Linked DNA regions of Homo sapiens. The protein of the gene in region 1 interacts with the protein of each later gene in a pairwise test. Each region holds a gene or a part of one and is shown on either strand. Other genes may lie near its edges.

Region 1 (5,408 bases):
TCATGTGTTTGTGGTGATGCTGGTGTAAACAAATCTACTGTGCTGCCAGTTGTTTAAAACTATAGCACGTACATTTATGTACAGTACATAATACTTGATGGTGATAATAAATGACTATGCTACTGGTTTATGTATTCACTATACCATACTATGCTATCTTATACTATTTTTTTATCATCATCTTAGAGTGTACTCCTTCTATTTATAAAAAATAAAGTTAACTGTAAAATGGCCTCAGGCAGTTCCTTCAGGAGGTATTCCAGAAGGCACTATTATCGCAGTAGGTGACAGGTCCATGCATTTTATTGCCCCTGAAGAACTTCCAGTGGGACAAAACGTGGAGGTGGAAGACAGTGATAGTGATGATCCTGAGCCTGTGTAGGCCTAGGCTAATAATGTATGTGTTTGTGTCTTAGTTTTTAACAAAAAGTTTAAAAAGTAAAATTAATAATGTTAACAGAAAAAAGCTTATAGAATAGGGATATAAAGAAAGAAAATATTTTTGTACAGCTGTATAATGTTTGTGCTTTAAGCTAAGTGTTACTACAAAAGCGTTAAAAAGTTAAAAATAATTAAAAAGTTTGTACTTTGGGAGGTTGAGGCGGGCAGATCACTTGAGCTCAGGAGTTCGAGACTGGCCTGGGTATCATGGTGAAACCCTGTCTCTACCAAAAATACAAAAAATTATCATGGCATGGTGGCACGTGCCTGTGGTTCCAGCTACTCTGTGGTCCCAGCTACTCCATAGGTTGAGGTGGGAGGATTGCTTGAGCCTGGGAGGCAGAGGTTGCAGTGAGCCGAGATCGCACCACTGCATTGCAGCCCCAGTGACAGAGTGAGACCCCATCTCAAACAAACAAACAAACAAAGCTTATAAAGTAAAAAAGTTACAGTAAGCTAAGGTAAATTTATTATTGGAGAAAGAAACATATTCTTTTATAAACTGAGTGTAGCCTAAGTGTGCAGAGTTTATAAAGTCTACAGTAGTGTACAGTAATGTCCTAGACCTTCACATATATTCACCACTCACTCACTGACTCACCCAGAGCAACTTCCAGGTCTGCAAGCTCCACTCATGGTAAGTGCCCTATACAGGTGTACCTTTTTTTATCTTATAAAAATTTATTATTATGTTATTTGAGGTAGGGTCTCACTCTCTCACCCAGGCTGGTGTGCAGTGGTGTGATCGTGGCTCACCACAGCTTCTACCTCCTGGGCCCAAGTAATCCTCCCACCTCAACATCTTGAGTAGCCGGGAATCACAGGCATGCACCACCATGCCCAGATAATTTTTAATTTTTCTGTGGAGACGGGATCTCCCTATGTTGCCCAGGTTGGTTTCGAACTCCTGGGCTCAAGCGATCCTCCTTCCTCGGTGTCCCGAAGTGCTAGGATTACAGCTGTGAGCCACCGTACCCAGTCATTTTTAATCTTTTATATTTTTACTTACCTTTTCTAGGTTTAGATATGTTTAAATACACAAATACTTATCATTGTGTTACAGTTGCCTGCAGTATTCACTACAGTAACATGAGTTATAGGTTTGTAGCCTAGAAGCAATAGGCTATACCATATAGCCTAGATGTGTAGTAGGCTATACCATCTTGTGTAAGTACACTCTATGACGGGGTCCTCAACCCCTGGGCCACGGACCATTACCTGTCTCTGGCCTGTTAGGAACCTGGCTGCACAGCAGGAGATGAGCCCTGGGCCAGCAAGCATTACCGCCTGAGCTCCGCCTCCTGTCAGATCAGTGGCCAGTGGCATTAGATTCTCACAGGAGCCTGAACTGCCCACACGAGGGATCTAGGTTGCATGCTCCTTATGAAAATCTAACTAATGCCTGTTGATCTGAGGTAGAACAGTTTCATCCCGAAACCATCCCCCCACCATCCGTGGAAAAATTGTCTTCTACAAAACTGGTCCCTGGTGCCAAGAAGGTTGAGGACCACTGCTCTATGATGTTGGGACAATGACAAAAATCACCAAATTACACATTTCTGGAATGTATCCCTGTCCTTAAGTGATGCACGCCTGTAATCTTTCTCTTTAGATTTAGGACTGATGATTTTTCTCTTTAGATAATAATATAGCTAAGACTGAATTTGCTTTTTCTTTCTTTCATACCACGCTAGTTATTCATTTTGAACTTTTTGCCCCCCAAATCCCTCAGTCTTTTTTAAGTATTTATTTATTTATTTAGACAAGGTCTCACTCTATTGCCAGGCTGTAGTGCAGTGGCGCTATCCTCCTAGGTTCAAGCGATCCTCCCGCCTCAGTTTCCTGAGGGAATATAGGCATGCGCCACCATTCCTGACTAATTTTTGTATTTTTGGTAGAGACAGGGTTTCACCATGTTTCCCAGGCTGGTCTCCTGAGCTCCTGAGCTCAAGCGATCTGCCTGCCTACTGGCCTTTTTTCTAGATTTTTCTTTCTTTCTTTTTTTGAGGCAGAGTCTCACTCCATTGCCCAGGCTGGAGTGCAGTGGCATAATCTCAGCTCACTGCAACCTCCACCTCCCAGGCGCAAGCAATTCTTGTGCTTCAGCCTCCTGAGTAGCTATGACTGCAGGCATGCCAGGCTAATTTCTGTATTTTTAGTAGAGACAGGGTTTTGCTGTGATGGCCAGGCTGCTCTCGAACTCCTGGCCTCAAGTGATCCACCCACCTCAGCCTCCCAAACTGCTGGGATTATAGGCATGAGTCACCACTACTGGGCTTCACTGATCTTTTATATATATATATTTTCATTTTAATTTCGTTTATTTCTATTCTGGTCTTTATTATTTCTTTTCTTCAACTAACTTTGGGTTTGGTTTGCTTTTGCTTTTCTAGTTGTTTAAGATGCATCATTAGGTTGTTCGGAGTTTTTCCTCTTTTTTGATGTAGGCACTCATAGTGATAAACTTCACTCTGTATCCCATACGTTTTGGTATGCTGTGTTTCCATTATCATTTGTTTCAAGAAAATTTTCAATTTTCTTCTTCTTCTTCTTTTTTTTTTTTTTTTTTTGAGATAGAGTCTCCCTCTGTAGCCCAGGCTGGAGCGCAGTGGCACGATCTCTGTTCACTGTGACCCTGCAACCTCCGCCTCCCGGGTTCAAGCGATTCTCCTGCCTCAGCCTCCCAAGTAGCTGGGATTACAGGCACCCACCATCACACTTGGCTAATTTTTGTATTTTTATTTTAACTAATTAATTAATTAATTTTTTGTTTGTTTTGAGACAGAGCCTCACTCTGTTGCCCAGGCTGGAGTGCAGTTGCACCATCTCGGCTCATTGCAACCTCTGCCTCCCAAGTTTAAGTGATTCTCGTGCCTCAGCCTCCCAAGTAGCTGGGATTACAGGCGTGCACCACCACTCCTGGCTATTTTTAAAAAAATATTTTTAGTAGAGACCGGGTTTCACCATGTTGGCCAGGCTGTTCTGGCCAACATGGTGAAACTCCTGACCTCAGGTGAGCTGCCTGCCTCAGCCTCCCAAAATGCTGAGATTACAGGCATGAGCCACCACACCTGGTCCTTTTTTTTTTTTTTTTTTTTTTTTTAATACAGGACCTCTCTTTGTCACCCAGGCTGGAGTGCAGTGGCATGAACGTATAGGTATGCACCACCACGCCTGGCTAATATTTGTATGTTTTGTAAAGACTGGATTTTGCCATGTTGCCCAGGCTGGTCTTGAACTCCTGAGCTCAAGTGATCTGCTTGCCTCGGCCTCCAGATTACAGGAGGTGCTGGGATTACAGGTGTGAGCCACGGTGCCCAGCCTCTATATTTTCTTTTTCTATTATATTTATGATGATTGTTAGGGAGGTAGACATTAGCTAATTTGTTTCATCAAGTCTTCAGAATATAGTTCCAATGTATACTCAATACCAGCCCTGTCCAGTAGAAATATAATGTGAGTTAGAAATGTAACTTAAAATTTTCTAGTAATCACGTTTAAAAAGTAAAAATAAATAGGTGAAATTAATTTTTAATATAATAATAATTTTAATGCTATAGCCCAGCATATTCATACATTTTTGTTCCAGCATATAATCAGTATACAAAATTGCTGAGATATTTTACTTTCTTATTTTAAACTAAGTCTTTGAAACCCATGTGTATTTTACAATTAAAGCACATCCCAATTTGAACTAGCCACATTTTAAGTGCTCAGTAGCCATATATTGCTACCATATTAGAGAGTGCAGATCTAGACTAAAAAGTTTAGTAGTAAAACTCAGTCAAGATAATTGGCTTTCATTGAATCTCAAAGGACTTTATTTGTAATCTTCCCTGAACTATCTTTTCCTTTAAATACAACAATGGGATCCTCAGATTAAGAATGACAGAGTTATTAGGAAATATCCCAAGACAGGGCCACATAGTTTAGAATCATGAGCATACTTATTTTACAGCCTGTACAGAAATCTTACAGATAATCAGTGAGATAATCACTGATGCCACCTGGTATGCACCTATTAGGGGGAATAGTACAGTTTATGGCCGGGTGCCGTGGCTCACGCCTGTAATCCCAGCACTTTGGGAGGCCGAGGCTGGTGGATCATGAGGTCAGGAGATCGAGACCATCCTGGCTAACACTGTGAAACCCCGTCTCTACTAAAAATACAAAAAATTAGCTGAGTGTGCTGGCGGGCACCTGTAGTCCCAGCTACTCGGGAGGCTGAGGCAGGAGAATGGCGTGAACCCGGGAGGCGGAGCTTGCAGTGAGCTGAGATTGCGCCACTGCACTCCAGCCTGGCCGACAGAGTGAGACTCCATCTCAAAAAAAAAAAAAAAATACAGTTTATAAAATAAAGACATTGAGTGACCCACAGAATTGAACTTTCTTAGTATGCCATACAGTGTCTTCCAAGTTCTGGCCCCTGTATACCTTTCTAATGGTGTTTTCTCCAGCCATACATAACTGCTTATGCTTGTTTGAATTCATTGTGCTTTTTCACACCTCTGTGCTTTGCCCTCTGGCGTGTTCCTTTCCCTCAGTATCTGCCTGGAAATCTCTAACTCATCCTTCAGCCCCACCTCAAGTAACACTTCAGTGAAGCTTATCCTGCTATTCCTATATTCCATCCCTCAAATGGGCATTTATGCAATCCTTTTACATTGCTGTAGCGTCTTCCACTCACAGCACTTATTACATTATATTATAATTTTTAAATTTTTATTTATTTTTAATTTTTTCCCTTCATCCTACTTTGATCTCATGACTGATTACTACTATAATTTTTAGAATGTAATTACCTTTGGTAGTGCAATCCTCATGATGGCATAGACTGCTTCACTCATCTTTATATTCCTAGCAAGACACCAGGCATTCAAGAAATGTTTGTTGAACTAAATTTTACAAGGAGACACGTAGACATCAGCCAAAGCAGAAAGGGTGCAGTTTCCTTGGATTCTGTTCAG
Region 2 (3,500 bases), on another chromosome or scaffold:
GCATAAGAACCCAGCAGTGCCAACAGAAAGCACAGCCACCGATTTCTCAGCCTCCCACTGGTGTTTTTGCAGCTTCACATCTTCGATGTAAAATGTCACTTGAGACTCTCATATGAAAAACACTCTCATATTTATTTGCTTTTTAATATTATGAAATTGCAACAGAAATTGGATTGGTTCTTTATACGACCCTGTGCTCATGAAGTTAAGCTTTAAGGGGTTGAAAATTCTTTAACAATACTTACACAGATTAAGCATTTCTAAATAACATCATGGTATAGATGAGACAATGGATTATAATTTTGTGCTTCGGTAATTGTTTCTGATGTTCCTGTTTTTAACATTTTTCTTTGACATAGTACTCAGATGCATTTAAAAAAATGAAGTCTACCAAGAATGCTGTCCTCTTTCTTCCCCTATTTCTGCATAATTGTGCTAATATACTAGCTAGGGCAGTTATATTTAAAATGGCATGTGTATATTTAGCAGCATAATTATGCAAATTCTACTGTGTTTATGATTGTAAATATCCTTTAGGAGCAGTTACTTAGCATCTAGTCCTGAAACAATTTTTGAAGAATTCTGGTTGAAATGTTTAGAATTCACTCCTGAATTAACTTCTCTGTTGTGTGGAGGTGGGGCTTATAGTTCTCATTTGCAAGGCAGAATACTGCACAGTGGTAAACAGCATGGAATATGTAGAATTCTTTAATAGTCCTGGACATTTTATGCCACCTACTGGCTTTGTGGCCTCGGGCAAGTTACTTAACCTCTCTGAGCCTCAGTTTCTCCATCTGTAAAAAGGAGATGATGATAGTACATATCTCACTGGGTTGTCATGATGATTACATCATATAATGTATAGAAACCACTTCACATAGTGCTTGGCTCATAAAAGGCTCTCAATAAATGATAGGTGCCATTCACCTCCTTCCTATACATTCCCCAGGAATGCTACATGTCAGCCTAGTTACCAAGATATCTAAAAGAGTTCAGGGCCAGATTCTGAGCTGTCCTTGGAGGAGGAAGTATGGCATGAGCTTCACCCTTGTCACTTTGTCCCATGTAAGAAACAATGGGGGAAGCATGTAGGAGTGCTGAGGGCAAAAGTTCCAGACTCAAGTTCTTTTGACCAGAGAATTATTCTTCACCTTTGACATGTGACTGAGGGGAGTTAGCGGGGAGTGTTTAGGTCTTTCAGCAATAGTGAGTCTAAATGTAGAGAGAATGTGTAGGTGTGTCTGTCTTGTGTGTGTGTCGTGTGTCTGTGTGTGTCTGTGTCTTTGTGTGTCCATGTGGTATGTGTGTGTCTCTGTGTGTCTGTGTGTCTATGTGCAGGTCTCTAGGAAAAGAGAATCTAACCGGCCCACATATACCCAAGCATTCCAATTCCACCCTCTGGAGATAAGCTGATTACAGGTGGGGAGTCACCTTGGCAAGATGTATGAGATAAAATTTTTCCTGTGCTATTTTACATTATGGGGAATGAAAAATGTGAACATGTAAAATTACATTCATAATTACAATCATATGTCAGAATACACTGGTGATAATGACTGTATTTTAGGTGAATATTCATCTGTTTTGTCAGTTTTTCTTATATTGTTAATCTGGAAATAGAATAATTTGGATTTTCTAAAAAGGTTTTCTAACATGTAAAACTGAAGTCCATAGAATTTTCTGAAATTTTACAAAATGGAAGTCTCTAGGGTTGGCAGATCTTTTTTAAAAAAGGGAGTGGAGGCTCTCAAAGAATACCCATAGTACCAAAAGCTAAAATCTTTCAAGATTTTGATCCCATACAGAGATGACTCCACAGGTCAGCAGAGGGTTTGTTTTATTCTCTCCATAACTAAACGTCTTGAAAAGTGAGGCTCAAGGATGTACATTAAGTTGTGTGTGCGTGGTAATCACACAGATGACACTGAGCTAGGTTCTGGAAAGAAGGCAGACACCATCTTTGGTTGGCCAAAAATTTTGATAATTTCAGCACTATTCCCAAAAGAATATTACATCTAAACTAATCTGTTTTCATGCAAATTCAGGTTTTTATCATCCAAGAACCGGGGTGGAAACAGTTCAATATGGTCATGGCAAAATCAAGCTCCTGATGCTCTTTTATCTAGGATAGGTCAGTGTGGGAGGTAGGATTCTGGCTCTCAACATTATATGCAGGAGACAAATTATCTTTATTGTTTTCTGGTCTAAATTCTTGCTCCCGTAAGTTCCATCCCCTCAGCAACATACCATTTCCCAACCAGCACCTCAAAGCCTGCCAAAGGGGACAGGTGTGTTATCCTTTCTGTGAAGTATGCAACACAGGCTTCCAAGACTTATCGCACATCTTGGTAGATTCCTCTCCAGATGTCACATTGGTCTGTTCCCATGAACCACTATGAGTGTTTATCCTATACCCCTTAGCTGTCTGCAGTGACGGGAAGAGTCCCTTTCTTTGATGCTTAGAATTTCACTTCATGAGGACTTTGGAAAGGAGAGAATGAATACTATTTTCCAATCCTTATTTTTTCTTAGTCCTGCATCATCAAGCCATTCACTGTTGTTGTTATTCTAGCTACATGAGAGAGTTAGAACTTTTGTTTCATTAATGATCCCAGAACTTTCATGTTCTTTCTCTTTCTGTCTCCTGGAATCTTTCTGCTATGATATTCCCTGTAACTGAACAAGTAAGAAGGGATTGCCCTTTCATAATAAAACTGTGCTAAAGAGGACTTCAGGGCTTTCTGACTTGTGTGTGAAAACAGTAAGGTAGACAGGTCACATTCCATTCACAATTTTGGCCTTCTTTTTACATGGTATATAATAGTAAGTGATATTAACATTTTTTAGTGAGAAGCAGTGGTTCTAATAAGGTATTGAATAACTGAATATCTAGACACCTTATTTTTCTTTTTTCTTTTGAGATGAAGTCTTGCTCTTGTCCCCCAGGCTGGAGTGTGATGGTGCGATCTTGGCTCACTGCAACCTCCACCTCCCAGGTTCAAGTGATTCTCCTGCCTCAGCCTCCCGAGTAGCTGAGATTACAGGCACCTGCCACCACACCCGACTAATTTTTGTATTTTTAATAGAGATGGATTTTCACCATGTTGGCCAGGCTTGTCTAGAACTCCTGAGCTCAGGTGATCCACCTGCCTCAGCCTCCCAAAGTGCTGGGATTACAGGCGTAAGCCACTGCACTTGGCCTGGACATCTTATTTTTCATACCCCTTGATTCATATATAACAATAGGTAGCAGCATGCTTAAACCTTCTTTGGACTCAATTTCTTTGGCTAGATTTTTATGATTATTATGTTGACTTGTTTCAACCAATTCAGGCTAGAGAAATTCCCTTTATCAAAATTAGCTTTTCTATTACTATATGAACTTTGGAAGGTTTTCAAGATAGAGTAGGAAGCTTCTGAATTGGTAAATTATAAAATATGTCTATTTAAAAAGAAATTCAAGTCCCCAGAGAGTCTTTCCCTGGAAAAATTTTGCTGAT

What was found. Proteins that work in one complex are often made in the same cells at the same time.
Region 2: the proteins of TEX11 (region 1) and KIAA1217 interact in a two-hybrid assay, tested with the Homo sapiens proteins (one large-scale study listed by BioGRID and IntAct).

Annotation. Positions count from the first base shown.
Region 1 is NC_000023.11:70,897,982-70,903,389, reverse strand, and holds part of TEX11 (testis-expressed protein 11), read left to right. Parts: intron 1-5,408. UniProt on the Homo sapiens protein: Regulator of crossing-over during meiosis. Involved in initiation and/or maintenance of chromosome synapsis and formation of crossovers.
Region 2 is NC_000010.11:24,474,638-24,478,137, reverse strand, and holds part of KIAA1217 (sickle tail protein homolog), read right to left. Parts: intron 1-3,500. UniProt on the Homo sapiens protein: Required for normal development of intervertebral disks.